Homo sapiens: one gene and its partners. The protein of the gene in region 7 purifies or fractionates together with the protein of the main gene of each other region. This does not show direct contact. Each region holds a gene or a part of one and is shown on either strand. Other genes may lie near its edges. The genes, in order: TMEM63B, DHRS7, RDH11, CYP51A1, SNX14, VRK2 and TMEM268.

What was found.
Region 1: the proteins of TMEM268 (region 7) and TMEM63B purify together in Homo sapiens (affinity purification with mass spectrometry; one large-scale study listed by BioGRID and IntAct). This does not show direct contact.
Region 2: the proteins of TMEM268 (region 7) and DHRS7 purify together in Homo sapiens (affinity purification with mass spectrometry; one large-scale study listed by BioGRID and IntAct). This does not show direct contact.
Region 3: the proteins of TMEM268 (region 7) and RDH11 purify together in Homo sapiens (affinity purification with mass spectrometry; one large-scale study listed by BioGRID and IntAct). This does not show direct contact.
Region 4: the proteins of TMEM268 (region 7) and CYP51A1 purify together in Homo sapiens (affinity purification with mass spectrometry; one large-scale study listed by BioGRID and IntAct). This does not show direct contact.
Region 5: the proteins of TMEM268 (region 7) and SNX14 purify together in Homo sapiens (affinity purification with mass spectrometry; one large-scale study listed by BioGRID and IntAct). This does not show direct contact.
Region 6: the proteins of TMEM268 (region 7) and VRK2 purify together in Homo sapiens (affinity purification with mass spectrometry; one large-scale study listed by BioGRID and IntAct). This does not show direct contact.

The regions. Positions count from the first base shown.
Region 1 is NC_000006.12:44,134,054-44,137,553, reverse strand, and holds part of TMEM63B (mechanosensitive cation channel TMEM63B), read right to left. Parts: intron 3,135-3,500; exon of another isoform or gene 2,994-3,134; coding exon of another isoform or gene 2,970-2,993; coding exon 2,811-2,969; intron 2,538-2,810; coding exon 2,458-2,537; intron 2,227-2,457; coding exon 2,188-2,226; intron 1,206-2,187; coding exon 1,115-1,205; intron 1-1,114. UniProt on the Homo sapiens protein: Mechanosensitive cation channel with low conductance and high activation threshold. Osmosensitive cation channel preferentially activated by hypotonic stress.
Region 2 is NC_000014.9:60,151,899-60,155,398, reverse strand, and holds part of DHRS7 (dehydrogenase/reductase SDR family member 7 isoform 1 precursor), read left to right. Parts: intron 1-1,333; coding exon 1,334-1,440; exon of another isoform or gene 1,441-1,447; intron 1,448-2,220; coding exon 2,221-2,460; intron 2,461-3,500. UniProt on the Homo sapiens protein: NADPH-dependent oxidoreductase which catalyzes the reduction of a variety of compounds bearing carbonyl groups including steroids, retinoids and xenobiotics.
Region 3 is NC_000014.9:67,685,765-67,689,264, forward strand, and holds part of RDH11 (retinol dehydrogenase 11), read right to left. Parts: intron 1-3,500. UniProt on the Homo sapiens protein: Retinol dehydrogenase with a clear preference for NADP. Displays high activity towards 9-cis, 11-cis and all-trans-retinol, and to a lesser extent on 13-cis-retinol.
Region 4 is NC_000007.14:92,127,978-92,131,477, reverse strand, and holds part of CYP51A1 (lanosterol 14-alpha demethylase), read left to right. Parts: intron 1-2,421; coding exon 2,422-2,598; intron 2,599-3,500. UniProt on the Homo sapiens protein: Sterol 14alpha-demethylase that plays a critical role in the cholesterol biosynthesis pathway, being cholesterol the major sterol component in mammalian membranes as well as a precursor for bile acid and steroid hormone synthesis.
Region 5 is NC_000006.12:85,510,359-85,513,858, reverse strand, and holds part of SNX14 (sorting nexin-14), read left to right. Parts: coding exon 1-59; intron 60-3,500. UniProt on the Homo sapiens protein: Plays a role in maintaining normal neuronal excitability and synaptic transmission. May be involved in several stages of intracellular trafficking. Required for autophagosome clearance, possibly by mediating the fusion of lysosomes with autophagosomes.
Region 6 is NC_000002.12:58,157,589-58,160,371, reverse strand, and holds the end of VRK2 (serine/threonine-protein kinase VRK2), read right to left. Parts: intron 1,130-2,783; exon of another isoform or gene 1,024-1,129; coding exon 679-1,023; 3' UTR 608-678; coding exon of another isoform or gene 572-607; 3' UTR 501-571; downstream 1-500. Other genes in the region: E3 ubiquitin-protein ligase FANCL, read left to right, coding at 193-324. UniProt on the Homo sapiens protein: Serine/threonine kinase that regulates several signal transduction pathways.
Region 7 is NC_000009.12:114,609,989-114,614,090, reverse strand, and holds the start of TMEM268 (transmembrane protein 268), read right to left. Parts: upstream 2,801-4,102; 5' UTR 2,527-2,800; intron 2,521-2,526; exon of another isoform or gene 2,089-2,520; intron 1-2,088. UniProt on the Homo sapiens protein: Stabilizes cell surface expression of ITGAM and participates in the adhesion and migration of phagocytes during bacterial clearance.

The DNA of each region.
Region 1 (3,500 bases), on a different chromosome or scaffold from region 7:
TTTCGGCCGTGATTCAGGACCATGCTACCTGTTGCCAACATCACCTGAGTCTGGGGACCATCTGGACACTTCTGGCTAGCAGATGTGACAACTTTGCCACCTACCAGTATGAGTCCAACTCAGGAAGCTGAAGGCCATCTTCTGCTGGAATTGCTGGAAGAGCTGCCACCCCTAGGACTTGCAGCCCAAGAGGGACTGACCAGGGCCACACCATGTCTGAGGATTAGAGTTCTGACTAGGCTCCTTACCCTCATGGAATTAATGATGGAGAGCCAGGCAGGTAACACCTGTGTGTTAGGTCTGATATGAAAGGGGTCTGGAGTCTGTTATGAATTGCCATTCATATGCCTTGTTAAAAGGGACCACTGCCACTCAGCTCCAATCCACAAGCAGGTCAACCGGCCCCACATGGCCAGGGGCCACCCACCTGCAACCTCCGAGCAACATGACAGATTCTGTTTTTCTAGGCAGGGCTGGAGGGCTTATTATTTCTTTTTTTTGTTTGTTTTGAGATGGAGTCTCGCTCTGTCACCCAGGCTAGAGTGCAGTGGCGCCATCTCAGCTCACTGCAAGCTCCGCCTCCCGCGTTCACGCCATTCTCCTGCCTCAGCCTCCCAAGTAGCTGGGACTACAGGCGCCCACCACCACGCCTGGCTAATTTTTTGTATTTTTAGTAGAGACGGGGTTTCACCGTGTTAGCCAGGATGGTCTCATCTAGTGACCTCGTGATCCTCCCGCCTCGGCCTCCCAAAGTGCTGGGATTACAGGCGTGAGCCAAGGGCTTATTATTATTTCTAAAACCATGACTACGGAAAAAAGGTGGCCTTAGGATTAATCAGCAGAAGTGGGCACAAAACTCTTTATGGCAAACAAAGTTGGGAATTCATGAATGTTAAGGCTGTGCTAGTTTGGAGACTGTGACATAGAGGACAGCAGCCAGGAGTTCAGGGCCTGGGGGGTCATCCTGTGGCTCCTTGGTTGAATCACTTTCTTTGCTGAGGAGGAGGCCAAACCAGCATCCCTGACTCCACATCACTGAAAGTGAGGGACTTCTCAGCCCATGTGCCCTGGGGGTGGGGTGGGGGACTAAGAAGTTTGGGGGGAGGGCACTCACATTGTCCCTTTGGTCAAAGTCAACGGAGCTGGAGACAGAGGTGAGACGCTCATACCGGTCATGGCTGTCCCCGTGCATAGCTGAAGCCACACTGGGGGTGAGGGAGATGAGAGATCAGAGAGCCTGGTGAGTCTGAGCCCCCGGGAAGCTGGGCTGAGTGCTCCAGAGCTCCAGGGCTACAGAAGGCACAGAAGGCACAGGAAGCGCAGAGGCTGAAGCAGAGAGGAATGACTGCCCTCTACCCTGCTTCCCTCAAATATGCCTCTTCCTTTCAGGGGGACTCAGGGTGGGAGCGGAGGTGGGCACTGATGGTGGGCAGTGGGGACTTGAGGGAGGAGGTAATCTTCATCATCTCCCTAAGGAGGCTGAAGCGAGAATGCCAGAGGGCCCTGCAGTTCCAGAGTTGACTGGCAGGGGCCGGGGGCGGGCAACGGAGCCAACATTATGCAAAGAGCAATGAGGAGGTGGAGGAAAGGATGGACCAGGAGAACCTGGAAGGGCTGGGGAGACTGGAAGGTCTCCTGGGTGGGACCCTACCCTCCGCTCCCCTCCCTCTTCCCTGACTCCAACAGCTGTTACAACTCCAACTCCAATCCTATAGACAGAGATGACAAAGTGACAAAAAAGCCCAGACTGGGGGGCTCCTTGGGCAGCCCTCCTCCCAGGCCTCCAGAAGAGGTGAGCAGGGAACCCTGGAATATGAAGAACTAGCTGTTAGCGGACAAGAAGCTGCTGGTGACACCCAATCTTGTCTCTACGTGATTGTGCTGAGGATTTCCTGGAGGACAGCCCCTCCCCTCCAGCCAACAAGGGCTGCATAGGCAGGGGCACACAGGGAGGGACTTCTCCCAGGCAGGGAGCCAGAGGGAGAGATGAAGGGGAGGTGAGGCAGAGACAAGCTGGGGAGCCCCCTGCTCTGCAAAGCACACCGCCTGCGTTAATCCGAAACATGAGCCTGCAGAGGAGAAAACTGCAAAAAGAAACCAGCAACTTGGCAGGAAGAGAAGAGAAGCGTGAGAGAAGAAAAGGGAAAGCTGGTTTAGTGGGAATGAGGGGGCTGGTGCCCCACATACTATTCCTGTTCCACTCGGTCCCTCTCCTGCCGCCGAAGCCTGGGGACAGAGAACAGACAGGGTTAGCAGGGGCGGGGGAGAGTCCCTGGGGACAGGTGAGGAACAGGGGCCCAACTTAGGGCCCTCATGCCCCCATGCCCACATTGGGGCTAGTCCCTTCTCATCCCCCCAGCAAAGGGGAATGAGAGAGGGCTGGCTCCTTCCTATTCCTGAGGAGTGTGGAACAAGATGTGTGTGTGGAGAGCTAGAGGGAGGGTCCCAGACCCTTACCTGTCTGCATCTGTCACCAAGGCCAGCCGCCCATAGTCCCAGGCCACCTTCCGGAGGATAGAGAATAAGAACAGCAGTGCCTGAGGGAAGAGGGGGCAGTTGGCAAGTGCAGAGGCTGTCTGTCCACCTGCTGGACTAGGGGGCAGAAGCAGAGGGTCCAAAATCTTGTCTTAGAAGGGGATGACCCTGGCTTGGGTGAATGGTCAAAGGCGAGGCTTGGGCTGGATGATGGGGACTCCTCCTGCTTAAGCCTGGGAAACCGGGGCAGGTGGGAGAGTGGTTAGAGCTGGAAGTGTTTGCCAGGTGTGTACAGGGCATGGATGCCAAGGTAAGGGGTGGCAGCAGGCACTTACAAGGAAGCACATGAAGTCGAGAGCCAGCACGGTGGGGACGCCCCCAAAGGGCAGGCCCTGCAGGACAGTGCTGCGGATGCGGGCGCTGTAGCAGTAGTCCTTGGGGTTGCTGTTGTTGAGGGCTGTGGTGCCCAGTGTGGCCAGCAGAAAGGGCAGCATGGCTGCTACTGCCGCATGGTCCTCCTGGGCAGAGGGTGGAGCAGTCAGCTGGGCTTGCCCCCATCCCCTTCATGGCCCAGTAGGGTGGGCGTGGGGAGGGGGCAGTGAGGACAGATCACCAGGCTGCCTGGGTGGATGGAAGCTCTGGCCTCTGGAGATAAGGGCCTAGGGAGGGGAGAGTTGAGTCACATGGATTTACCTTCACTGGCTCTCTGGCTATGACCCCACCCTGGGTCTGGGGAACTCAGTCTAGATGCCAGGCCTGGACTGGGGAGGCTGGTTTCATTAAGCTGGAAGGTATCTGTGATTTTCTAACATCTATCTAAATCCCCCCTGCCGCCGCCACCCCCACACTCTCATTCTCTCTGTCTTAGGGCAGGGGGCGGAGCTGAGCCTGGGAAGACAGGGAGGGGTCTTAGGCCTGAGGACTCAAGGGTAAGATGAGGGGTCTCCACGTCAGGGGAGAATGGGTCAGGAGCCAGCTGCCTCATCCTGATCTTTTCTTTCTATGCCTATTAGAAAAAATGGCAT
Region 2 (3,500 bases), on a different chromosome or scaffold from region 7:
TGGCTCATTGCAACTTCCGCCTCACAGGTTCAAGCGATTCTTGTACCTCAGCCTCCTGAGTAGCTGGGGCCACAGACGTGCACCACCACACCCAGCTAATTTTTGTATTTTTAATGGAGACGGGGTTTCACCATGTTGGCCATGCTGGTCTCGACCTCCTGACCTCAGGTGATCTGCCTGCCTCGGCCTCCCAAAATGCTGGGATTACAGGTGTGAGCCACCGCACCCAGCCATTATGTTCACATTGAAAGCAACTTCAAGTATAAAGTTATTATTTTTCATGGAACATTTATTAATAGTACCTAAACTGAGATAATTTTGAATTTTCCAACAGACCATTTTTTGGGCCATCTCTCTACCTGTCATTCTTTTAAATCTTTAACTTTGCTGATCGAGCTAACCACCCAGAAATGAGAGTTAGTTGCCACAGTAGTGCTCAGCAGGGCAACAGGCCTCTTTCATGATACTGCTTTCAAAGGCCTCTTGTGTTTTTGCACTGGGCCACTTCTTTTGATAGTTGTTCCTCTACTGCTGTGACTTGCAAGTCCTGTACTGGTGGAGTAGATGAACCAGGTCAGCATTTCTTACCTGGCACAAGGCTGTTTCCTTTTATCTTGCAGATCTGTAGTGCCCACTTTTTCATTTAATACAGTTGATGTTTCACGCTTAACTCTTTTGCCCATGAAGTCTTTTTACCTCTTCTATTTTCTATACTTGCTTGTTTTTCTTACTGATGTTACTTGTATTTCAAGGTTAGAGTCCAGGAAAATTAGTTTCAGTTGTTCTTTTGATGAACAGAAAGCCAATCACAAAGCAGCAGCATGTTTCTTGGTTGGGAATTTCAGGCATGTGTCCTTTTCCCTGTTTACCTCCAGGAATCCTTAGCCTCTGGAGAGAAGCTTCTATATGTCATTTGACTGTAGGACTCTGAGCTTCTTACTGATTTTAAGCACAAGTAGTTGTTTTGTGTGTAGAAGAGCAACTCATCTTTGTGAGCCTATCACAAAACAAAGGTACCTCTGTACTTCTAAAGAAATTGCTCTAAAATATTTGCTCTTTTCTAGTTTGTAGTATAATCTTGATTTCTATCAGAAATCAAATTGTAAAGTTAGACTGCATATTCAAGTTGCCATTCTACTTCCTGTGAGGCCAGCCAGCTTTTTGTCTGATATAACCACTAGTCCTCTTCCTGACCACCGAGAGGAACTTTCACAGGGCCACCCAGAAATGAGTTTGTTGCCAAGTCCTGTTGCAGGGTGGGTGTTAGTGGGAGTAGCAAGGAGCTTGACTGAACTATGGCATGACTTCCACACAAATTTTTGTCTTTATTTAGAGAATGGCAATTTAAAAGAAAAAGATATACTTGTTTTGCCCCTTGACCTGACCGACACTGGTTCCCATGAAGCGGCTACCAAAGCTGTTCTCCAGGAGTTTGGTAGAGTAAGTAGCATCTTATATTGATATAGTCTTGCTTTGAAGTAACTGCAGAAGAGATTCCCATCCGTGGTGCTGTCATACAAAGGGCTTTAGGCAAGTGGGGTCCATGCAGTGAGATCGGGCCCATGAGTTGGGCCCCTTAATCTCTGAGCCTTTGTCATTATGGAATTAGTACTTTTCATGTCTTAACAAGTACAAATTCCTCCATGTAGAACAAAAGAAGCTAAAAATTCACGGCTGCTTTTATTTATTTATTTATGTATTTTGAGACAAAGTCTTGCTCTGTCGCCCAGGCTGGAGTGCAGTGGTGTGATATCGGTTCACTGCAATCTCCGCCTCCCAGGTTTAAGGGATTCTCCTGCCTCAGCCTCCTGAGTAGCTGGGATTACAGGCATGCACCATCACGCCCAGCTAATTTTTATATTTTTTAGTAGAGATGGGGTTTCACCATGTTGGTCAGGCTGGTCTTGAACTCCTGACCTCATGGTCCACCCTCCTCAGCCTCCCAAAGTGCAGGGATTACAGGCTACTGTGCCCAGCTGGCTGCTTTTATTTATTTTAATGACAATTATTAACTTTCACAAAAAGTCACCTAAAACGGGAATTTAATTCCACAGGTAAATTCAGGGCTTTATTTTATCTTTTTAATTGCTGACTTCTGGAAATATACCATTGTTCCATTGATTCTTTAAGTTAACAAAATAACCAACCATCCATAGGAATTCCATCAATCTATCCACAAGACATCCCCCAAACACCCCTTTTCTGATTTTATTTAACTAGATCGACATTCTGGTCAACAATGGTGGAATGTCCCAGCGTTCTCTGTGCATGGATACCAGCTTGGATGTCTACAGAAAGCTAATAGAGCTTAACTACTTAGGGACGGTGTCCTTGACAAAATGTGTTCTGCCTCACATGATCGAGAGGAAGCAAGGAAAGATTGTTACTGTGAATAGCATCCTGGGTATCATATCTGTACCTCTTTCCATTGGATACTGTGCTAGCAAGCATGCTCTCCGGGTAAGGCTGCTCAAACTCAACTCTGATAGAACTGACTTAAATGTGTATATGGGGGATATGGCCATCACTGTGTGAGGTCCTTGGAACTGGAAGTGATGTGGGGAGACAGAGAGACCCAAGGAGACTTTTGGTAGAGGACACCCCCAGTAGATGCTAAAAAAGACTTGATCCACACATGCCTCTAACTTGTTGAACAAATAAATATGTATCAAGCACTGCATTGTGCCATGTACTACAACAGACCCTGGGGATATAAAGATAATAAGATGTGGTCTCTGCCCTCAAAAAGTGTATCATCTATTTAACATGTTACTCTTCACCTTATCCTTATTCCTACTAAATCTTCATGGAAAATTGGGGGTCCACTTCTCCTTTCTTCTACATACACTTCAGGATGTACTTTTTCCTCCCCATTTCTGTGACTTCTTTTCCTTGCCCCTTGTAGTTGGTGTTTATTTTGCCTGGTCTAATTATATATGCATGTCAGAAATAGGTACTTCCCACAGGATGATTAGTCCTGGTCTCATATCCTTACTGGGAAAAATCTTGACTGTATTCTCTCTGGTTTCATTGGAAGAAGAAAATCTAGTCAAGGCAGAGGCAAGGAGAGAAGCTTGATTTGGACTGCATAACTTACGATGTATAAATATTAGAAATGGATGAATTTTTAATGGTGGCTTAAGACTGGATATAAAGAAATTATAAGGCCAATAGGAAAAGAATGATTAAGGAAGACACAAAATTTATATTTAAAGCTGTTGAAGTCAGTTTAAGTAGAATGTTTCACTGTTGGAATCATGAGATGCAATAGCTACATGGTCATCATGGTTTCATGAAAATTTGAAGCTTTGGTTCTTTAGGACATCTTTTTTCTGCTGCAAAGTGCAGACAATTGCAGACAGTGATGAAGCGGAATGCTATACTGATGATTTCCTCATATTTAGTAACAGGCATCAGTCACTTCCTGTGGAGCAGTTGGGCAAGCCTCAGGCAGGCAGATGAGGGAGGGCGGCCACCCATCTGTTTGGCACCACGTGTCT
Region 3 (3,500 bases), on a different chromosome or scaffold from region 7:
GCCACCACACCAGGCTAATTTTTGTATTTTTAGTGGAGACGGGATTTCATCATGTTGGCCAGACTGGTCTTGAACTCCTGACTTCAAGTGATCTGCCCACCTCGGCCTCCCAAAGTGCTGGGATTACAGGCGCCCATCCCCTTCTTAAAGTCTTCTTTTTCACTGGCTTCCATAAGCCTATGCCACTTCTGGTTTTCCTAACCTTTCTGGCTGCTCTGTCTCAGTTTTCTGGACCAGTTCATCATCTTCTACACAAACATTAAATGTTGGAGTTCTCGTGGCTCACCAGACTCCCTCTCCATAATTCTATGGTGCTCACATTTTGTCCACAGTCCAAACTGCTCCTCTGAACTGCAGACACACTGGGAGTCAACACAATGTGGTGGTTATGGGCATGGATTTTGTAGACAGACTGCCCAGTTTCAAATCCTGGCTCCACTCATTAGCTGTGTAACCTTGGGCAAGTTCCCTTTTGTGACTCATTTCTTCATCTCTAAAATGGGAATAATCATAATACTTACAACCTCACAGGGTAGTTATGAGGATTAAATGAGTTCATATATGTTAAAGGTCTTAAAAGAGTGCCTGATGCAGCTGGGCGTGGTGGCTCACACCTATAAGCCTAGCATTTTGGGAGGCCAAGGCAGGTGGACTGCCTGAGCTCAGGAGTTATAGACCAGCCTGGGCAACACAGTGAAACCCCGTCTCTACTAAAATAGAAAAAATTGGCCGGGCATGGTGGCGTGCACCTGTAATCCCAGCTACTTGGGAGGCTGAGGCAGGAGAATGACTTGAACCAGGGAGACAGAGGTTGTAGTGAGCCGATATCGTGCCACTGCACTCCAGCCTGGGCGACAGAGTGAGACACCGGTGCAAAAAAAAAAAAAAAAAAAAAGTGCCTGATGCATGGTAAGTGCTAAATGATACTTTTGCACATGCTATTTCAGGCCCCCAATCCTTTATGGAAAACGCTGGGGCCAGACATACTTCAATTTTTTTCTCTGATTGTAGAAAGGTAATATGAAATGTATACATACACTGCCTATTAATCTAATCTCCCTAGTACAGGAAATGTTTTGCTGCCAAATGAGTTTTGGTGTAAAGCTTTGAAGAAACAGAATTTTTCTGGTCTTTGTGGACTGACAGCTGCAGACACAGCTGTATTATTCCCAACTGCCTACTCGACATCTCCCTAGATGACCCATAGTAATGCAGACTCAGAGGTCCCAAATTGATTTCTACTTTTAAAGCCAAACCTGGTTCTTGCAGTGTTCCCGACATGCCCAATCAGGCAAAAGGGTTCTGATGAATGCCCACCTAAAGCATGCATCTCCAGTCAACAAGCTTTCCCAAACCAAATCTCTCTCAGAAGTTTCTACTACCCTCCAATTCCACCACCTAGTCCAAACTACCCTCATTTCTCACCTCTGCTGATGAAATCAACTGCTGCAACCCCTCTTGCCCCCATTTTGAAAAGGCTTTAATTTTAACCGTTTCCCATTGCTCTTAGAATAAACACTAAAATCCTTACTGTGGCCTCTAAGGGTTTGGCATCTACCTACCTCACCAGTCTCAGCTCAGATCTTTATTACTCTTGCTTTCTACAACCTACCAATGGTAACCTTCGCTGTTTCTCAAACTGAGCCCGGACCTTTGTACATTCTCCTCCTTCTGCCTGGAATGTTTCTCAGCCTCCATATTCCTTTTTTTTTTTTTTTTTTTTGAGATGGAGTTTCACTCTTGTTTGCCCAGGCTGGGGTGCAATGGTATGATCTCAGCTCACCACAACCTCTGCCTCCCAGGTTCAAGCAATTCTCCTGCCTCAGCCTCCTGAGCAGCTGGGACTACAGGCACACGCCAACATGCCCGGCTAATTTTGTATTTTTAGTAGAGATGGGGTTTCTCCATGTTGGTCAGGCTGGTCTTGAACTCCTGACCTCAGGTGATCTACCCACCTCAGCCTCCCAAATTGCTGGGATTACAAGCATGAGCCACCACGTCCGGCCCTTTTTTTTTTTCATTTTTTCAGACAGAGTTTTACTCGTGACGCCCAGGCTGGAGTGCAATGGCATGATCTTGGCTCACTGCAAACTCTGTCCCAGGTTCAGGCGATTCTCCTGCCTCAGCCTCTCCAGTAGCTAGGATTACAGGCGCCCGCCACCACACCTGGCTAATTTTTGTATTTTTAGTAGAGACAGGGCTTTCACCAAGTTGGCCAGGATGTTCTCGAACTCCTGACCTCAGGTGATCCACCAGCCTCGGCCTCCCAAAGTGCTGGGATTACAGGTGTGAGCCACCGCGCCCGGCCTCAGCCTCCACATTCTATCAGTACCTCTAATCCATTTAATTTCTAATCATCCTTCGGGGCTCAGCATGCAACTCACTTCTTCAGGAAAGTCTTCCCTGAACCCTCAGACTGAATAAGGTCCCCCCAAGACTCCCACTAAAATCCATTGTAAGTCCTGGTACTTCTCCTTTATAACATTTATCACAATTATAATTAAACAGCCACAACAAAAAGGAAACAATCCAGATGTTGTTAAGGAAATACATAAATACACTAAGGCACATCTATACTACGAAATACAACACAGCCAATACAATTAAGGGGTAAATCCATATGTACTAAATGGAAAGATCTCCAAGATACTGTGTTGGAGTTTCAGTTCCTTGTGCATGATACATACATATGTAAATGCATAGGAAAATTATTGGAAAGGGGCACACAAGCTGTTGATAATGGTCATATGAAGGGAGAAGAGCAGGGGGAAGAGGGGAATAAATGAAGGTGGTTTTTCACCTTAATTCTACATACTTCCATATGCTTTGAACTCTTTTTTTTTTTTTTTTGGTAGAGGAGATGAGGTCTCACTATTTTGCCCAGGCTGATCTTGAACTGGCCTCAAGTGATCCTCCGGTTTTGGCCTCCTAAAGTGCCTGGGATTAAAGGTGTGAGCCACTGTGCCTGACCTTATTTGAGCTTTTTACAATGAGAATTATTCATGCATTACTAGACTGATTTTACATTTAATAGTTTGTATAAAGACTTGCTAATTGTCTTTCTCCCCCGTTAGATGTAAACCAAACCAAAGAAGAGACTATACCTATCTTGTTCACCAATTCATCCCCTGTCCCCTAACCCAGTGCACGGAACAACATGGGCACTGAATACGTGTCTGCTGAATGGCTGAATGAATGAATCTTCTGTCAAACCAGGGTTCTTTTACTGCACCATAATGATTTTCCACTGAATCCTCACAACTATCAGAGTCACCTCATTCATGTATTAGTGAATTCTCACCACTGGACCCATCTTTCCACCTCCAGGCCACCCTAGCTCCCTGATCAACTCTTTGGATAGTTTTCACCATCCAGTTACCCTTATCTATCCTAAACTGATAAAAGATGTCATGCCCTGGGCACAGACTGGGCATAAGGACTGAGCTAACCACCAGTTTCCTTCCCATCTCACAGATGTTCATTTGGTAGGATGATCCTAT
Region 4 (3,500 bases), on a different chromosome or scaffold from region 7:
AAAATTGATATTAATTAACCCTCATTTTTCTTTACCATGCATCTGTGGGGTTTTCTAACCTGCTCTATACATCTTCTGTGATTTCACTGTCCACTTGAATGACCCACATGACACCATAGCTACTCAATTATTTGCCCGTCTTCTCTCTAATGAGCTTCCCTGTGCCAGTTAAGCCATTTACTTCACAGTCTCGCTTTGGACTTGTCACTCTTAACTGTTTCACTTCCACAATATTAATTTAGATATCCTATTCGTAGACCATACCGTCTCCTGGTTTGCTTGTGCAACTCCTTAAATTATAACTATTCTTTGACCTCATTGGATCTTGCATTCCATTTACTTTCTCCTGATCCATCAGCCTTCATTCTTCACTTTCCTCTTTCCGCTTTGGGTCCATGGCATGTCGTTTCTGTTACACTCTTGGCAATACTGTACTTTAAATTTCCTCGACCCCGCATCTTTTCATTGTGTTCAGCTGGCAGAAGTCACCCTTGGAGGCAGCCAGTTATTGTCTCCTTCTGCACCAGATTAGTTTCTTCCTGATTTTATGATTGCCTACCTTAATGATATTTGAACACTGCTCCACAGTCCTATTATGTTCTTGTGATTGGGCCTACTTTTCCACTCATTACAGTGACTAATTCAAACCTTCACTTTTCTAAACTTCTGAATCTTTCTACCTCTCCATCAAAGCAGATGATTTTTTCTCCTGTTTAGGAGACAATGATTAAAAACGTTGATTTAGGAGACAATTATTAAAACATTCAAAGAAAACTTCCTCATTTTCTCAATTTCAAATATGCAAACCTACTTGTATTTATATAGTAATCCTATTCTCTTTCTTCCTATCACAGTAATAATTATCAAACACTTACTTTATGCCAGTACTTAGTGCTTTACAAAGATCATCTCACTGAAGCTCCACAAAAACCCTTTCAGGTATATTTGTTTTATAGATGACAAAACTGAGAAGCAGAGAGGATATATAATTTCTTCTTGGACTCACTGCTAGACAGTGGCCAAGCCAGGATTTACACATGGTCTGATTTCTGAGCCTATACTTTTATTAATGATAACAATAATGGAAAACAAGTCATTAAGATGCTAAGTAAGCCAAGGTACTCTTCTCTGCCCTGTATATAAAATTTGGCAGCAGCTCTGTGAAGAACTGCTATTATTATTATTACCATTTTATAGGTGAGAGAAACGAAACACAGAGAGACTAAGTTCTCTGACTATAGGACCAAAGTCATACAGCAAGTAGGTGGAGGAGCTGGGATTTGAACACGGACAGTCTGGCTCACTGCGTTCTACCACTTTGATTTTATTACAACTATATTTTGCCTCTTATCGGAGGCTGAACTCTCCATCCCTCTTTTGTCTCAGGAACTTTTTACTTTTATTTGTTTTCTCAGTGTATTGTTGACTTCTTTTTCAATGGCATCTTTCCTTTTTCTCTGAAAAATTCTTGTCACCCGTTTAAAAACTTCCTCAAAATGGCTTATGAGGCTCTGTATGGTCTAGCACTGCCTAATGCTCAACTCTCATCTCCTCCTTTCTCTTTCTCTTACTTTTAGGGCCTTTGTGTATGTTTAGCTACCAAACCAGCTCCTCATTCTTCTGGTCTCAACCTAGTTGTCTTTTCCTCTATTAGGTCTCCCTTTTTTAGATTCTCTCATCACAGAGTTGCTTTCCTTTCTGTAATACTTGTCACATTTGCAGTTTTATGTTTGTTAATGTGATTATTTGATTAATTTGTATTTTTTCCAATAGACTAAGCTTGGTGAGTTGGGACAGTATTTTTTTTCATGATTATACCCCCAGAGTCTAGTCTTCAATCATAACCAGAAAACTGCAAGGGAAAGTATTTAACATCTAACCAAATTAATATAAAATAAAAAATGAAGTCATTTAGTGTAGGTGAGATAGTGCTAAAATAGATAAATAAACTTGTAGTGTCTTCACATAGCAGGTACTATAGAAAAGGTCAAATTCTTTGGCTAGTCTTGTAAAATTTGTTTTTAACCAAAGGGGGAAGAAGTCTATATTTTCAGAGGTGTTCATCACAGAATTAGCTGTAATAACTAAAGAAAACCCTGACATATCACCCATATGTCCAATAATGAAAGAGTAGTCAGTAAATTAACATTGTGATGTTTATATAGACAATAGAAAACATTGTCAATATAAACTGAAAAAAGCATAATAAACAGTTATATTTATACTACATTTGCAACTAAATGAACATAATTATAAATTTGGACAAAGGAAGGAGGAGTATGGCAAGATGAAAAGAATTGCTTTAAGGTTTATATATGTTTTTATTTTTTTAATAATGCATTATTTTGTGATTTTAAAAAGTTACTGTCGTAGTGTTGCATATTTTTTGTAACATCACTATATGTACTTTTCTCTTTTTAGTATGGACCTGTATTTAGTTTTACCATGGTAGGCAAGACATTTACTTACCTTCTGGGGAGTGATGCTGCTGCACTGCTTTTTAATAGTAAAAATGAAGACCTGAATGCAGAAGATGTCTACAGTCGCCTGACAACACCTGTGTTTGGGAAGGGAGTTGCATACGATGTGCCTAATCCAGTAGGTGACACTGTTACCATAAATAAAGACAAATCTATACCTCAGTAGTTATAGCTAATAGTGAGACATTATACATTTAAAATGTAGAAACAGCCAGGCATGGTGGCTCATTCCTGTAATCCCAGCACTTTGGGAGGCCAAGGTGGGTGGATCACTCAAAGTCAGGAGTTCAAGACCAGCCTGGCCAACATGGTGAAACCCTGTCTCTACTAAAAATACAAAAATTAGCTGGGTGGGGCTGGTGGTGCACACCTGTAAATTCCAGCTACTTGGGAGGCTGAGGCATGAGAATCGCTTGAACCCAGGAGGCGGAGGTTGCAGTGAGCCGAGATCACAACACTGCACTTTAGCCTTGGCAACAGAGTGAGACCCTGTCTCAAAAACAGAAACAAAAAACCAAACACACACACACACACGCACGCGCACACACACACACACACACACACACACAGAAACCAACCAAACAAAAATGTAATAAAATGTAGAACCAGTTTATTCCTTGGTTCAAAAGTCTGAAGAATCATGAGAAGAAAGGCCATGGATAACTGATAAGTAATGGGTATTTAGTTTTATATTTGCTGTCATGGCTAAACAATATTAAAGGGCTTCCTGTACAAATAATGGAATCAATGATAACTTAGCATACTGGGATTTAATTTGAAAGGGTTATTAGACAATGCTGTTACTTCATCAAAAGGACTTCCTGCCTACCCATTCCTGCCTGAAATTCTAACATAAGCGCTGTTTAGAGATTGCTGACTTCAGAAGTCCTCTTTTAATGCAACAACTTCACGTGTGGGGTACATCTATGTGTATGTTTTACCCTCAAAAGCCAAATACGAAATTGTTTTAAGTTGATATAGAACACAAATCAGACAATTGGCCCCAATGCTTGGTATGGG
Region 5 (3,500 bases), on a different chromosome or scaffold from region 7:
CCAAGATAAGCAAAAAGGAGCAAAACAGACTTTTGAAGAAATGATGAATTACATTCCAGGTGTAATATTTAAGAAGTAACTTAATTTCATATAGATTAGCAGTCCGTTGAGGTCACAATGTATAGTAATTATTGAAGCTAATTTTTTACTGTGAGTTTTCATTTTACAAATAGTTGCAAAGATCAGTTAAAATTAACACACTAGTTAAATAATTCTTTCAGATGTTAGCACTAAGACTAAGATATTAGGACTTTAAGGCAAGGCTGTTTCTACTCACATAATAGCCAGATTCATTCAAAAATAACTTATAGTCAGACTGGTCAAAGTGACATGTGGGACAATTGAAGGCCTGTGTCCACGACACCATAAGAATAGCTCACTAGTGTGTATGATAAAAGATCAGAATTCATTCATTCCAAATTTATTGAGCACCTTCCATATTCCAGGCACTATGCAAAATGCAAGGCATATAAAAAATGCACTTGAGTAGGTCAGTCTAGCAGGAAGACAGGCATATAGACAAAACATACATGTGATAATAGAGGCATTTTCAAGTTACAGAGATATCACAAAGGAGGAGGATGGTCACCTCCTCTGTAAAGTTGGTAGGTTTGGGCCACTAAGGAAATGAGTGGTAGTAACCTCTTAACTGTGACGGGAAATAACAAGGAAGAAATGTCAAGGGATCAAAGCAGGTGATTCTTAGTTTAGAACATTTTGAATGAGAAGTGCCTATAAATTACTCAGGAGGAAGTGTCTGTTAAACACTTAGACACCGAGGTTCAAAAGTTGGAGAAAAGGTGGTATAGGATAGATTAGTAGAGATATGGGAGCCATGTGTGAGTAGATACTAAAGCATAGGGAGAAAGTATGGAGTAAGAAGAGAAAAGGGTGACTTCCAGTTTCTGGTCTGGCACATAAGAACCTGGCCATCATCACTCCATCCTAGTAACAAGCAAAAACCTGAATGAACTAAAAAAACTAAACAACTCTTAGATTCACCAGAGAGTGAGGTCATACGGCAAGCCACTGCCCCCCAAGGTTGGAGAGAATCATAGCTAGCTGCAGCAGAAACCCGTGAACTCAAAACCCCTGGAGAAGCCAGTGCTGAGCTAGGGAAACCTGAACTATAACTGACAAATTGCTACAGCCTTTTAAATCTCTTTTTAAGAGATTAAAAACTCCAGGGGAACCAAGTCATGGGGTTACCCATCCACATTTTTTTTTTTTTTTTTTTGAGACAGAGCCCCACTGTGTCACCAAGGCTGGAGTGAAATGACACGATCTCTGCTCACTGCAACCTCCGCCTCCTGGGTTCAAGCAATTCTACTGTCTCAGCCTCCCGAGTAGCTGGGACTACAGTCCTGCACCACCACGCCTGGCTAATTTTTGTATTTTTAGTGGAGATGGGGTTTCCCCTTGTTGGTCAGGCTGGTCTCGAACTCCTGACCTCAGGTGATCCACCCGCCTCGGCCTTCAAAAGTGCTGGGGTTACAGGCGTGAGCCACCGTGCCCAGCCCATCCACACTTTTTTTGTGAGTTTTACCTCCAGGGCCTTGACCAAGATCCCACAGTGAATATTGGAGAAAAATCCCCATGTGCTTCTGGCAAGGGGGCCAGAAGGGAACCATTTTGAAATACATCAGTCAGGGCATTCTGTTCTTGACAAGGCCCTACCCTCAGTAGAAAGTGACCAGAGCCTGACTGACCTGATGGAAGGGAAAGAACCAACTCTAGCCAGCCCTGGCCTTCCACATGGAAGAAGGGAAATACCCAACTCCAATACACTCTAGCCATCTTGTCCTGTGCAAGGGGGTCAGGGGGGCCTGAGAAGCATGTGTGAAGTTCACAGTTCAGTGGTACAAGCTCACTAAAAGATTGAGACCCCCTCCTAGGACTATAGAACCCTTCCTCTCCCTCCATATTTTATCACCACATTACTAAAGGCCTGTTTGCAGCAGTTCCTCTTAACTTGTGTGTCATGTCCAGTTATCAAGAAAAAAATTACAAGACATATTAAAGGCAAGAAAAAACAGTTTGACGAGAAAGAGCAAGTATCAGAACCAGAGTCAGATATGGCAGGGATGTTAGAATTATACACCAAGTGGGATTTATCCCAGGTATTCAAGGCTGGTTCAGCATTCATTCAAAAGTCAATTAAGGTAGTCCATCATCACATCAGCAGGCTAAAGAAGAAAAATCATGATCATAGCAGTAGATGCAGAAAAAGCATTTGACAAAATCTAACACCCACTTATGATCTCAGCAAACTAGGAAGAGAGGGGAACATCCTCAACTTGATAAAGAATATCTACAAAAACACCTATAGCTAACATCACACTTGATGAAAAACTTAAAAGCTATCCCACTAAGATGAGGAACAAGGCATGCTCTCACTACTGCTTTCAACATTGTACTCGAAGTCCTAGTTAGTGCAGTAAGACAAGAAAAGGAAATAAAGAGCATAGTGATTGGGAAGAAAGAAATAAAACTGTCTTTGTTCACAGATGACATGATTGTCTATGTAGAATATCCAAAAATTGACAAAAATGCTCCTGGAAATAATAAGCAATTTTACCAGGGTGGTAGGATATAAGGTTAATACACAAAATTCAGTTACTTTTCGTGTATATCATCAGTGAGCAAGTGGTATTTGAAATTAAAAAAAATACTATTTGCATTAGCACCCCCAAAAGTGGAATACTTGGGTAGTAATCTAACAAAACATGCACAAGATTTATATGAGAAAAATTGTAAAACTTTAATTAAAGAAATCAAAGAACTAAATAAATGGAGAGAGATTTTATGTGGATAGAAATATTCTGTTTTCAAGATGTCCGTTCTTCTGAACTTCGTCTATAGATTCAATGCAGTCCCAATCCAAATCCCAGTAAGTTGTTTTGTGGGTATTGACAAACATTTTAAAGTTTATATGGAGAGGCAAAAAGACCCAGAATAGCCAACTCAATATTGATTGAGAACAACAAAGTCACAGGATTGACACTACCTTTCTTCAAGGCATACTATAAAGCTACAGTAATCAAGAAAGTGTGATATTAGCAAAAGAACAGACTTACAGCAACTGTTCTTATTAGCAAAGGAACAGTTTACAGCAAAACTGTAAAACTTAGAGGATAACATGGGAGAAAATGTAGATGACCTTCTGTTTGGCGATGACTTCTTAGTTGCAACACCAAAGGCATGAACCATAGACGAAATAATTGATAATCTTTACTTCATTAAAATTAAAAATTTTGCTTTGTGAAAGACACTATAAAGAATGAAAAGAGAAGCCACAGACTGGGAGAAAATATTTGCAAAAGACGTATCAGATAAAGGACTGTTACCAAAAATGTACAAAGAAATCCTGAAACTCAACAATAAGAACACAAACAACCTGATTTTAAAATTGGCCAAATATCTTGACACCTTACCAAAGAAGATTACACACAAGCATATGAAAAGATGTTCTACATCATATGTCATCAAGGAAATGCACA
Region 6 (2,783 bases), on a different chromosome or scaffold from region 7:
TCCCTTGTTACTCAACATCTTAATAGTCTGCTATTGGCTCAGGAAATACATCCCTTACTCTTGCAAAACAAAATTAAGCTAAGTCTTCTGGAATAAAAACATAATGCACTTAAAAACAAAGGGAATGACATTTGGAGTATCTGTAATTTGTAATCATGCTGACGCTTCTCCTTTATCTTTTAAAATTTGCAGTGGCTGAGAGGACTACTAACTAGTAGACAGAGTTTTAACATCATATTTGGTGAATGTCCATATTGTAGTAAGGTAAGCAAATTGTTAATCACATCTCATAAAATGTGCCTAGCTTTCAGTAATATGTTCTAGAAGATAGATCTATATAGTATATCAGTTTATCTAAAACTTTTGAAACTCATTCTCTGTATTTCTATTTTTCAAATTCTCTGATCAAAAACATTAAACTCCTTTTCTAGATTTCCTAGGTGATCTGAAACTTCAGAAGTGTTTTCCAAACTGTACTATGACACTATTCTATGACACTATTTCTAGTACAAAGCAATTTTATTTTTTAGAGTGTCCACAAACTTTGTTAAAATATGTTCTCTTTTTAAAGCCAATTACCTTAAAAATGTCTGGAAGGAAACACTGAAATAAGAATACAACATTTCGGTGAAGAGCTGGAAACTTAAAAAATTATCAAAAGGAATTTTGGTATCATCTTCAGAGAAAAAATAAAGCAAGAAATACTAACATCAAAAGGACAGGTATGATGATGCGATAATAATAAACATCTGCGTTTGTCTCTTCACTAAGAGTAAACTGGGAAATTGTAGGCCAAAGTCCAGTTGAACTTTCTAAGTCTGTGATCCCCGTGCTGACTGTGGAAGTGTATTTATACCAAGATGGAGATCTTGACTTCTTGAATATATCTGGACTGGTAAAATCTTGATGAGGCTCATAAAATGAGTTTGGGAATTGTGTATAGCTGATTTTTTGTGGGAAACTGTTTACTTCATTCAAAGGTTCTTGAGACTCTTGATATTTCTGTCTTCTCCTTGTGCTTTCCTATGGAAAAAATACATATATAGTTTAGTTTGTTAGACGTGAGTTATCCAAGTATTTATTTTGTGTAGTGTGTAAGAATGCTAAATAAAATGTTATACAAGATCAAGTTTTTGCGTGTTATTTTTCCTGAGAAGTAATTTTTAGGTAAAGATCTTAAAGATTTACACTTTTTAAGAGTTTATAAACATCCAACAAGCAAATCTGGATATAATTTGAGTGGTTCTTTTAAACCACGTCAGTAGGCCATCTCTTAAGTAATTTATAATCTAAAAATAAATAGGATAGAATATGAAAACTGAATTTTCTTGGCAAAACCAAAAAATTGGGCTTAATCTTAAGGGGGTAAGATAGCCATAATTAGAAATATTTTGGTCATTAATGTGATTCTTTCTTTACCTTCTGATTCCATGGCAACTGAGAAGTGTCCACTGTACAGTGGGCAAAGGATGAGGCTGTACACAGCCAAAGAAAACTGCCTCAGGGGTAGCTATAGTGTTATGTCTCTTGGAAAGCTATACAGACGAACCAGTATAGACCGAATAGATATTAATATAAAGCAAATTAAGTGGTATTAATATAAAACAAATTAACTGGTTACTTATGCAAGTTTCGGGAGCTACTTCTATGTTTTCATCATTCCTGTTGGCCAAAGTCCCAGGAATCAGTTTCCTGATCACCACTTAACTGGCTGAAAGTCGAGTTTTTCTGCTTTGCTTTGGTGACATCTGGCATGCCCCCTCAGCACCATTTATCAAGTAACTAACTTAGAAGAGAAGAAATTTATAAAACAAAGCAAAATACTTTAAGCTTGTTCACTGTCCATCATTCTCAGAATAGCTACTACCTTCTCAACCTTTAAACTGCCACCCTTCAAACAAACAGCCCTCCCCTTTCTAGATACAGAGTTTTGGAAGTGTCAGAAAGGAGTCCTACATAAAACAAAGGATGTTTTAAAAACTACTAGCTTTCCTATGAAAAAAAATTACTTGAGAGTTAAATGACTCACTTTAGAGTTAAATAACTCATTTTAAACTACTCTTTCTGAGCTAACGAAGTCACATTAATGCAGTTTTTCATAAGTTTGTCAGCTTTATTAACTAAAGTCAAAATAAGTGAATAATTATTCCAGTAGGCCTATAAAGCATAATACAAATAATAATTATGCTATCAAATCATAGAGCAGCATTTACATATAGCTCACATGTGCAAGGCTGGGAGATATCTCCACTTAGGTAAGGATAGAAGTCAAGCTACTATAATTTCCAGAATCATCTACTGTGTAATCTATACACTTAATCTCTCTTGAACATCAGCAAATGACATCATATGGCAAGGCACTCATCAAAGAATTTAACCACCTGTTGTCTTCAGTACACTGAGGGGGTCTGATTAGGATAGTCTATAACAGGAGTTGCCAAAATTTGGCTTGGCTAGTTGCCTGTTTTGTGAATAAAGTTTTATTGGAACAGAGCCACATCAATTTGTTTATGTATTGTCTATGTGGGCTTTTGCACTACAATGGCATTGTTGAATAGTTCTGACAAAAACTGTATGGAAAGTAAACTGAAAATATTTTCTTTCTGGCCTTTTAAGAAAAGGTTTGCTGACCCCTGCTCTACGGCATTATTCTTCGAGTATTAGAAAGCAAACAGATCATCATAACTTGTTAAAATGCAGATCTCATTCAAAAGGTCTAGGAGTATGACCTGAGATTCTGTATTTCTGAGAAGCTCCAGATGATGCCAATACAGCTGGTCTGC
Region 7 (4,102 bases):
GTAAAATGGGGATAGAGAGGTCTACCTCCTATAGCTGCTGTGGGGATGTAACAGAAGGAAATGCAAGCATAATATCCAGTACTCGGCTCACCAGACAGGCCCCTTTCCTCAACATGATTTTCCTATTTTACAGGAGAAAAAACCGCAGGTCAAAGATGTAAAGTGACTTGCCCAAGGTTGGGAGGCTATGCTACCAGCCATGGAGCCAGGAGATAAACCCAAGCCATCTGGCTCCAGGGTCCAAGCCCATAATTTCCATGCCCTTGCCCCTCTGCACTCTAGTGTGACTGTCTCTGAGAATGTTCATGAAATCACCCTTACAAAACAAAACAAAACAAAACAAAAAAGAGTGAGTCAAGGGAGACTGCATTTCCCAGGCAAGATCAAGCAACAAATGCAAGTCAGCCCTGAGATGCTACTCTGGGGATGGCAGGGGCCTTCTCCTCCTCACCTGGCCCACAGCAGGAGACTCTCCTAAATATGCTAAGTGTTTCTCACTCTCATCACGCCTTACTTTCTTCCTGTACCAACAAAAATAGCCACAAGGATCTCTGCCCTGCACTTGATAATCACTGAAGCCCTTCCCTCCTTCATTTGATCATCTCTTAGGCCCCTGAGGCAGATATAATTCTGAGATCCATGTTCCAGACAAGAAACGAAGGGACATCGTAGCTAGGGGCCTACAGCCCAGAGAAGCTGTACTAGAGTCTCAAAAAGGCCTGGGGGACCGAGCAGCCACGAGGGACCATGCCCAGGCTGGAGTTGCACAGGTAGCCTTTCAGACTGCGTGGAAGGTTCCATTTGTTGCAAAATCCCCCCATGAGGCAATGTCTTTCAGAAGAAACCACAGCACTCTACTTGGCCCCATCAGCCTCTCACAAAGTACTAATCAGCAGGCTTTATTCCATTCACCTGGAGGCTGTTTCCTGTAATAGCTAAAAGTAACCGGCCCTGTCCTGCCGCTTCTCACCTGTGTAACCTTGAGTAAGTTACTTCTCTGCCTCAGTTTCCTTACATGTAAGTGGGGATAACGACAGTAACTTCAGGTGGTTGTGAGGTTTAAAGAGTTCACACATGTAAATCACTCAAAATAGCACTGGGCAAGTAGGAATCATTGAAGAAATATAGCTGCCATCATTTTTACTCCACAGACATTTCCTAAGCACCTTCTCAGGCCAGGCCCTGTGCTATCTTGAGCACGAAACTGGAAATAAAATCTGAAGTTCCTACTCAGCCCTCCCTGCTAGGGATCACCATCTGGTAGGAAAGACAAACTCAGGGAAAGACAATTACAAAACAAACAATTGCAACAAGGCAGTGAGAGGGAGCACCTTGGTTGGGGTGGGGGAAGGGTTCTCCGGAAGGCTTCCTGGAGGAAGGAGGCTCCTGGGCTTGGCAAAGGTGGAGGTGAGAGCCAAGAGAGGCCAGTGCCAAGCAGAAAGGGATATGGACCAGAGGCCAGGACATGCCCATCAGGGCAGCCTGTGTGGTCACCTTGCAGCCCCTCATTCAACCAGGAAGCTGCAGAGGGCAGGAGGGGTGCTGGCAAGACCTCAAGGGCAGATGCCTATCATATGTCCTGAACCCCATTTCCCCATCCAGCTCAGCCCTGCACCAGCCCGAGGATAACACAGAAGGTCAGACAGACAGCAGGGTGGAGGCAGAGCAGGGGGAGTGAGCACAGCCTTGAGGCCCCTGCAACTAAGCAGGAAAACTAGAGCTTCTCTGGGTCTCCTCTGCTGATTCTGCATTTTAACCAGAACTTCCAGATATCCATCTTGCACAAGGTCAACTCCCCTCTTTTTCAGCCCGTAGAGAGCATCTGCAAAGGAACATACTCTTAAGTCCTATTGCGCAAAGGCCCCCAGCTCTGCAGACACCGAGTGCCCAGCCTCCCCGGGAACTATGTGCAGCACTGAGATTCGTCAGTTTCCTAAGTCAGGTTTTGTTTTGTTTGTGAAAAACACAACACGAGACCCTAAGAGGGCCTGTTACAGAAGTTTCGGGGCGGAAAAACCTTGAGACACAATGAGTCCGAGCTCTCCATTTTACAGGTGAGGACGTTAAGACCCAGAAAAGAAAGTGTACCATCCAAGGTCAAGGAGCCAGTCCTGGACTGGGCCAGAATTGAAACCCAGGCTCCTTCACGCCAGCTGGAGCTGTCTCGCCATACACGGCCTTGGCCTTGGGCAGCTGTCTCGTCCCAGTCTCAGTCTCCGCCCTCTGGAACTGTCCAGGTCGGCTGAGGATGGGGGATCTCCTTCTCCCCATAAATCAGTCTGGCCCTCCCCAACCGCGGGCCCCCAGGAGGCTTGTCAGAGCCGCTCCCACGGCCGGCACGCGGGGGAGGGGCCCCAGGGCGCACGAAGGACCCCCCGCAGGCTGCCCGCCGCGCCGAACCCAGGCCGTCTGGCCCGAACGCAGGCCAAGGCGGAGGCGCCCAGGCTGCTTCCCGGCCCCGGAGCCCCACAGCACCAAGCCCGGATCGCAGGACACGGGCGCGCGCCCGGGCCCGCGCACACTCACCGCCCGCGCCGCCGCCGCCGCCGCCGCCGCCACCCCGGGACGCGGAAGGTCGGGGGCGCCGAGCCCCTAATGCCGCAGCCTCTGGGCACCGCAGCCCCGCGCCCAGCACGCCTCCCGCGCCGCGCTGCGCCGCCTTCACGGGCCCGCCCCCCGCCCGGCCGGCCCCGCTCGGTCGCCCAACCCCGAGGAGCCGCCCGCCGGACTCGCTTTGGGGCCAAGAGGGAACGCGCCTCCCGGGCCCGCGGCGGAGCGGAGCTGGAGGCCGCGTTTCATCAGCCGAGCGCCCCCCCGGGACGCCGGAAGGAGCCTCCGCGCGGAGCCGACCACGTGCACGGCATCTTGGGGCACGGGTTCCCGCCGTCTCCCCACTGTAAAGGAGCGGCTTACTCCAGAGGTCCAGCCCCCTCACACACAATCACGGAACCCGTGGATGAGGCAGTATTTGAGACCAGAAGTTTATTGGGGACTTGGGTTTGGTTTTTGTTTGGTTGGTTTTGTCGTTGTTTTTAGAGTCGGGGGTTTCGCTGTGTTGCCCAGGCTGCTATCGGACTCCTGACCTCAAGCGATCCTCTTGCTTGGCCTCCCAAAGTGTTGGGATTACAGGCGTGAGCCACCGCACCTGGCCGGGGACTTGTTTCTAATGGAAAATTGTGTATGTGCTGTATTGTTAAGAGCATTGGTTTGGGGTCAGACTAGGCTGTGATTCGGGTCTCTCCACTTCTTATTATCGTCTTTGGTAAATTATTTAACCTCTTTGTGCCTTCGTTTTCTGTAAAAAGCAGATAATTATAGCTACTTCATGAGGTCGTGTGAAGATTTAATGAGATAGTGTGTGTGAAATGTTCACAGCTACCAGACACATACTCACTCGTGTTCCCAATTGCTATACTCACAAGGGCTCACTCCCATCGCCATCCTTCGTAATTTCAAAGGGTCTACGGTTAAAAGTAAGTAACCTTTCCCCTGAGGAAAACACTAACCTTGTGCTTTCCTTGTATTTTTCCTTAGAGCACATATGTACCTGTGCGTGTGTGCGTTTACACAAAGGAAGGCCTTTTCTATTCTGTTGGGCACTCTGCTTTTTCATTCGACAAAGTACCTTGGCGCTCATCGGCCAGAACGCGCCACACTGCCTCATTTCCTTTTAAGGGGCACATAAACGTCCCTATATTAATATTAGGTTTGCGCAAAAGTTATTGCGTTTTTTTGCCATTAAAAACATTACAGGCTGGGCGCGGTGGCTCACGCCTGTAATCCCAGCACTTTGGGAGGCCGAGGCGGGAGGATTACCTGAGGTCGGGAGTTCGAGACCAGCCTGATCAACATGGGGAAACCCCGTCTCTACTAAAAATACAAAATTAGCCGGGCCTGGTGGCGCATGCCTGTAATCCCAGCTACTCGGGAGACTGAGGCAGGAGAATCGCTTGAACCCGGGAGGTGGAGGTTGCGGTGAGCCGAGATTGCGCCATTGCACTCCAGCCTGGGCAACAAGAGCAAAACTCCATCTCAAAAAAAAAAAAAATTGCAAAAACCGCGATTATTTTTGCACCAACCTAATAGAAAGGGTCTTTGTTTT